2 linked regions of the Homo sapiens genome follow. The protein of the gene in region 1 interacts with the protein of each later gene in a biochemical or structural test. Each region holds a gene or a part of one and is shown in the gene's direction. Other genes may lie near its edges.

Region 1 (3,650 bases):
TATCCTCCTCTCACTGATGGACATTTGGGTTGTTTCCAGTTGAGCTATTACGATAGGACAGTACTGCTAGGGGTGTACATGTTATACTTGTCTTCTGGTTCATGAGAAACTCACAAGAATTTCTGTAGGGCACATACCTAGGGTTGGAATTGCTGCCTCCCATGGAATTCTATGTTCAGCATTGCTATAGGGTGCCAAACAGCTTTCCAAAGTGGTTGTCCCAAAAAACACTTCCAGCAGTGGATGAAAGTCTCCATTGTTCTCCATCCTTTTCAACACTTGATACAGGCTTCATTTCTAAAATGAAAAAGTTGCATTAGATGAGTTTCTACAGTTATAATGATTAGCTATAATAGTTGTATTATTCATGACCTAGGGACCCAATTTCTGGCTCATGTGTGTGCCTGTCTGCTGCACTCTGTACAGGTGACCACATACATGTCACAGCCTGAGACATGTCTCAGAGAGAGCTCTGTGCTGGGCCTCTAAGTACAGTTGAAGCCCTTCCTCTCTGGGCTTCCACCAGCAGTGCTTGAGGGATCCCACGGTTCTACATCCTCCCAAACACTTGGTGGTCTCCTCAGTTCAACCAAGAGCCTGGTGTCAGCAGTGAGCCCATACTATGTGCTCAATTAATACCTGGGGAGGAATATATATTTTCCTTGGGCATCAGTTTTGAGAAAAGGACATGGAAGTATAAGAACCATGAGTTTGCTGGCTAATCAAAGCACACAGGGCTGGGGCAGTGATGGATTCATGTCTGTCCTGGGCTTCTTGATCATTTAAGGGCTCCAGTGAGATGGGGTGAAGTTTAGTAGTCTCTACTGGCCATCTCTTCAGAGTCTGGCCTTGTTCTTTGGCCTTTTGACTTGTTTAACCTGAGAAGCAAGGGGTAGCTGGAGGATTGGAGTGGAGGGAACAGAGGCGATGCCATGGGGAAAGGAGCCAAATGCCTGTAGAGAATCCCTTTCCCTTTGAAGGTCGAATACCCTGCTAGGACTACTGGGGAAAAGAGGTGTTAACTACACTCACCATCCTGGTAGCCACATAAACAGCCAGATATTCACCACCCATCCACCCATGGGACAAAGGAATGTGGCTGGCTGGACAGTTGCATGGGCCACCTCAGCTCTCAACTTTGTAATTACCTATCCAGTCTGTGCCTGTCAGCTCCGGGCAGGCAGGTGCTTCTGCCCTGGGCCTCACTTTGGCTCCCAGGCCTGTGCTGGGATCAGGGACAGGGCTCTACCTTCTCCAGCCATCCCCTCACCCCAATTCCACCCAGTGTCTCTTTCTATACCAACCTTTGACCCTTGTGAGGTTACCATATTATGTAATAGCTGACAATCATAATAACCAATGGTTACTATAACTCACTATGTTCCAGGTACTATGTTCAGTGCTTTTCATGCATTTTCTCATTTATGCCTCTCAATAATCCTACGAGGCTGGTAAAATTATACCCATTTTATAGAAGAGGAAACCAAGGTTCATAGAGATTAAGAGGCTAAATTCCTTGCCCAAAGACATTGAGCTACTAAATCAGAACCAGAATTTAAATTCAGGCTTAAGTCCAGAGTGCATGTTCTCTTCCTCACTTGTGCATTGCCTTTCCTGCAGTGTCCTGGTCATTCAGCTCAGTCTTCCCTCCTCCCCTTCCTGTCTAGGAGGGCTGGAAAAAACGCAGCAGGTGGTACGAGGGTGAATGGGGCAGTTCCAATCTGGCCAGGGAGATGCTGGAAAACACCTTCGGGGCAGAGTTCTTTGTTCCAAACGGCTCTGAATTTCCGGACTTCTGCCAGGGGCAGGAAGTGACTTCTGCCCAGCCTCTTTGGCAAGCACACCCATATCTTGGGTGCCATGATGTTAAGAAGTGGGGGAGGGGCTGCCTCAGGTAAAATTCCATTATAATGAACTCCATTTGAGGTCTGACCGGCTTTGTTGAAACCACGTGCACAGCCTGGGAAACTGGAAATGGAGTGGAACTAATTCGAGGTTGGGTGTCTTTTAGCAAAGCCCCCCGAAGGTTTGGAGCCTAGAAGGAGAAGGAGAAAAGAGTCAGACCCACCCCCAGGTCCTCCTGAATGCCAAGCTCCTGCGTGGTCCTGGGCAGGGCTTGTGGGGAGAGCTCTGTGCGTAACTCCACCTGTCAGTGCTGTCATCGTCCATTCCCCCCACTCTACTCCGAGCCCCGAGAACAGATCTGAATCCTGTCTCTGAAGTGCCCCTGCTCCACACAATAACTAACATGTCACAGATATACTCACTAGATGGTTTTGTCTGTAGACCAGGTGCCTGAGCAAGAAAGGAGGGTTGAAGGGCAATTGCTTTGTGTCATTAAATCATCTTCAAAAACTGGGCTGCAACTCAGATGAATTCTCCTTAGTCATTGCAGTAATTGTGCGCAATAATAAGCACTAACGTTTACTGAGCAGGTACTACGTGCCAGGCACTATGCTGAGCACTTGACGTGATTATCTCATGGACTCCTCACAGACTATGCAGTAGGTGGTGTTATTTTTCTCATTTCACAGGTGAGGAAGCAGAAGCTTAGAGAGTGCATTTCATTGGTTCTTGTTGCACAGCTAGTGGTAGGGAGAATTCAGGGTTGGGCACACCCAGGCCAGCTGCCTCCAGAGCCTGCACTTCTAACCGTGAGCTCTGCTGTCAGTGTGTGCTGGTCAGGGGGCCAGGGCCAGGTGGGTCATGAGTGAGGCTGGAGGGATGCAGACCCGGTGAGATGGACTGGAGAGCACACGCTGGTTGATGGGAGCAGCCCCTCTCGGCCCAGCAGGCTTCCGGCAGGAGCTTCAGCCTGGTGTGGCCAGATTATCTGACTTTTTCATAGAAAGCTGGACATTCAGATTTTTTTTCAAAAATGTAAACTCTTGATTTCTAAAACATTGACAGCCAATTTAAAAAAAATGAAATGTGTAATCACTGTTGGTGTTGGGGAAGGACGGGTGGCAAACAGCAAACATCACAGTCAGGTCTGCCCTGCAGGCTCCACTGCATCCTCTGGTAGTTTTTTTTTAACAGGTAACTGTTATAGAGTGGGATAGGAAAAACCCTGTTCCTGTAGAATTCCTTACTAACGTACTAGAAGGTACCCCTCCCAGAATGTGATAATAGCTTTATAATACAGAGTGTTTCTTCCTTGTGAGTTAGAAAGAAAGCTTTCAGAGTAAGATATTCCAAGAATACCTTCCCCTCCTTTCCTTTCTCCCCTCCTCCTTCTCTCCCTCCCATACTCTGTCTTCTCAGGAAGGTATTTCCTCATAGGTATTAGAAGAAAAGTTGTGTGAGAAAAATCAAAAGGAAACTAACAGAGGATAGGGTCTTAAGGCACAAAAAAAAGGAGAAAGTTTGGGGATGGGCTTGGTAGACAACGAATGAATGGATCATGCTCCATGCAATCGTTCAAGGTGTTTTTTCACAGCCTTCCCCTTTTTACCTGAATTTATTCCTCCTCCTCTCCTATTCTTAAATGCCTGGAAAAATAATAGTAATGCAATAGCTAGTATTTTTATAGAGTGTAATTTTAGAGTGTAACAATTTTTATAACACATTTGAAATATTTATCTCAGCTGACACAACAGTCTTATAGAATCTCCTTTTGGAGGCTTGGTAAAGTCGCAGTGTTTTCTCCT
Region 2 (3,650 bases), on another chromosome or scaffold:
GAGATGTGTTTCCTAGTTCTCCATAGTCTGCCTTGCTGTCTTGCTTTGCTCTTTATTTTTATGGCCCTGCAGACATTTAATTTTCTGATTCTTACTTTATTGAGGTATTGAATATTGTCTCCCCCAAACCAGTAAATGACATATTGGGATGGTGGGGGGGATGGCCAGAAATTGACAGATGAGTTTGTGGGCAAGTAAATACTAAAACCTATTTCTAAGGATGAGCCATACTTGATCATAATGAATAGAATGATAAATGAAATTAAAAGATGAGGTGAAATTCAGCTTAGCTCCTTGAATATTTAGGCATCTACTATGTATTAAGTACTGTATTAGAAATTACCACATTGGTGATAGAAAATTAGCTGGCCAGCTTTATGAAATACTGTAGAAGAACTCTTTTTACTTGTATTGTGGAGCTGTTGTCTAAGAGAGTGGTTGGACGAGAAAGGAAATATAGGTATTATTTTCTCAAACATTTGTTGAGCCCTACCATGTATTCTGGAAACTGGCTAGAACTCTGCAAGATACCAAGATGAATCTAGCCAAGGTTTCTATGCTGAGGAATGTCTGTAATGTGTTATGGAGCTGGGATACTAGAGAATGGTACCTGAAAGAGGTGGTCTGTGAACGAAGCTGCCAAGAATAGTTAGTATCTTAATACTTGGAGATGAGACAGTGCTGTATTTTCCAGGCTGAGTGAAAGCATAAACACAGAGGTGGGTATTTAGGAGATGGTAAAGAGTCCACTTTGCTTGGAGAAGAGGATTGTTATAAGGGTGTTGTTGGAATTAAGGGTGGAAATGGAGATGAACAATAGTAACAATAATAGATAAAACCTAAAATAAATAAAACTTAAAAAAATTAATAGTAGTAGTGGCTTTTCTTTCCCCCCAGTGTTCTTTGGGTAGGGTTTTTTTGTTTTGTTTTGTTTTGTTTTTAAATAGAACCAGGGTCTTACTCTGTTGCCCAGGCTGGAGTGCAGTGGCGTGATTATAACTCATTGCAGTCTTTAATTCCTGGGCTCAAGTGATCTCCTGCCTTGGTCTCCCAAATTGCTAGGATTATAGGCACAAGCCATATGCCTGGCCAATGGCTCACATTTTTTGCATGCTTACTATTTGCAAGATAATGTGCTAAGTATTTCATAAGTAGCATTTTATTTAATCCTTACAACAACCTGATGAGGTAGGCACTGGTTTTTAATCCCTTTTTACATATAAAATGAAGAAGAGAGCTAACAATTGATACAGAAAGTATTTGAGTCCAGGTAGTCTAATTTCAAAGCCTGCCTTCCTAATCTCTGCATACCATATAATCAAATCATGGAAGGCTTTGAATACCCATTTCTATTCCAAGCTGGGAAGTTTGAACTTGATTGACTAGGTAGTGGGAAGTCATCAAATGTTTTTCGCCAGTGATGTGATGAAAGCTGTACGTTAGGAAAGGAAGCCTGATTGTGAAGTGTAGGATCAGCATGGGGAGAAAGGAGAGATATGGAGCTAGTTTACTCTCTTACTTCTCACTAGATTGGGTGAGTGCTCCTTTAGGACTGGGCTGGTGTCTGTCTCTGCCTTCCCCCTTCCCTCCCTTCAGCTCCAGTGTCTGCCTATTTTGATGTCTGGTATATTCATTTATTTTTTTAAATGTGATCTTTTTCTACCTCACCTTATTCTAAAAAGGACATAAAGTAGCTGCCTAGGAGCTCAATAAACATTCTGAGTTAATTAGTAAATAACTAGAGTTACATTTAGATGTATACACAAATGAAATACTATGGCTTTGATGGAAGGAGGAATGCAGCCCTAGAGTTGGTCATATGCTTTATTTGATATACAATCTCTATAAAGCAGAAGGCCAGGACCATACCTTTACTTTGTGATGAATTGTGTATTCTATGTCAGTTATAATATTCATTATCAGTTAATAAATTAACTATATCAGTTAATATTAATGAGCACCAAATTCAGAGGGCATTCATACTTTAAACAGATATTTCAGTTTGTATTTAGCATTAACCAGCTGCAACCCCTCCCCCTCCGTCACACACACAAAGGCAACAAAAGTTCCCATTAATCAGCTCCTTTACTGATATTGAATCTGTTGAATATCAGTTCCGTAGTACCCATTTATATACATTTTCTTTTGCTTTTGCTTTTGCTTTTTTGTGTGTGTGTGTGATGGAGTCTCACTCTGTTGCCCAGGCTGGAGTGCAGTGGTGAGATCTTGGCTCATTGCAACCTCCGCCTCCTGGGTTCAAGTGATTCTCCTGTCTCAACCTCCTGAGTAGCTGGGACTACAGGCAACTGCCACCACGCCCAGCTAATTTTTTTGTAGTTTTAGTAGAGATGGGGTTTGACCATATTGGTCAGGCTGGTCTCGAACTCCTGACCTTAGGTGATCCACCTGCCTCGGCCTCCCAAAGTGCTGGGATTACAGGTGTGAGCCACTGCACCCAGCTGCTCTTTTTTGTTTGTTTGTTTGTTTGTTTGTTTTTGGAGACAGCATCTCACTCCCTTGCCCAGGCTGGAGTGCAGTGGTGCAAACTTGGCTCACTGCAACCTCTGCCTCCCAGGTTCAAGTGATTCTCCTGCCTCAGCCTCCCAAATAGCTGGCTCATACCTGTAATCCCAACACTTTAGGAGGCCAAGGTGGGTGGATCACTTGAGTTCAGGAGTTTGAGACCAGCCTGGCCAACATGGTAAAACCCCATCTCTACTAAAAGTACAAAAATTAGCCAGGCGTGCTGGCATGTGCATCTAATCGCACCTACTTGAGAGGCTGAGCCTTCCATCAATTCTTGGTGCTCCTTGGCTTGTAGCTGCATCACTCCATCTTTGCCTCTGTTGTCACATGGCGTTTTCCCTGTATGTCTCTGTGTCCAAATTTCCCTTATAAGGTCACTAGTAGGTCCCACCCTACTCCAGTAGGAGTAACTTCATCTTAATTGATTACCTCTGCAGCGACTCTGTTTCCAAATCAGGTCACATTCTGAGGTACTGAGAGTTAAGACTAACATATTTGGCAGGGATGGGATTGGGGGGCACAAGTCAACACATAACAGGTAGTGTTTGAGATAACATAGAGGCATTAAATTAAAATTTATTAAAATGGAAGGGTAAGATTGCAACAAATGGGATTAAGGAGAGAGTAACCAAAGGAATGATGGACATAGGAAAATGTAAGGAATATTTAGGTAATGAAATAGTGAGAAGTCTGATTTGCTGGTTTGTTGAGGAGTTGTGGAGAAGTGAAGCCGACGTACTTTCTTGGGGCCCTGGATGCCAGGTCTAAGACATTTGAATGTTGCTGAGTGACCAGTGTGTGGGAGCAGGATGGCACTGCGGAATTTTGAAATGGTAGATAATTGATTCAAGCTTTGAGTAACTGAGTCAAGTTTTAGAGACATTCTAATATGATCAGGTGATCATGGATAAGTAAACACCCTGTAGAAAAACAGATGGTCAATGACAACACACCCAGCCTCCCTCATTTTCCTATGCCAGTAACTTTTGCCAGCACAATAAAGAAATCTCTCTTCTGTAAAACAACAAACTTTGAGGGTTTTGTTAGCCCTCTCTTCTTGGTGAGTCATCTGTGGGCATTGAGAGATACATCAGCTTTTCAGGGTCTCCATTCAAAAGCCTCCC

The links.
Region 2: the proteins of VDR (region 1) and NCOA6 form a complex in vitro, tested with the Homo sapiens proteins (one study listed by BioGRID).

Annotation. Positions count from the first base shown.
Region 1 is NC_000012.12:47,894,992-47,898,641, reverse strand, and holds part of VDR (vitamin D3 receptor), read left to right. Parts: intron 1-3,650.
Region 2 is NC_000020.11:34,815,650-34,819,299, reverse strand, and holds part of NCOA6 (nuclear receptor coactivator 6), read left to right. Parts: intron 1-3,650. UniProt on the Homo sapiens protein: Nuclear receptor coactivator that directly binds nuclear receptors and stimulates the transcriptional activities in a hormone-dependent fashion. Coactivates expression in an agonist- and AF2-dependent manner.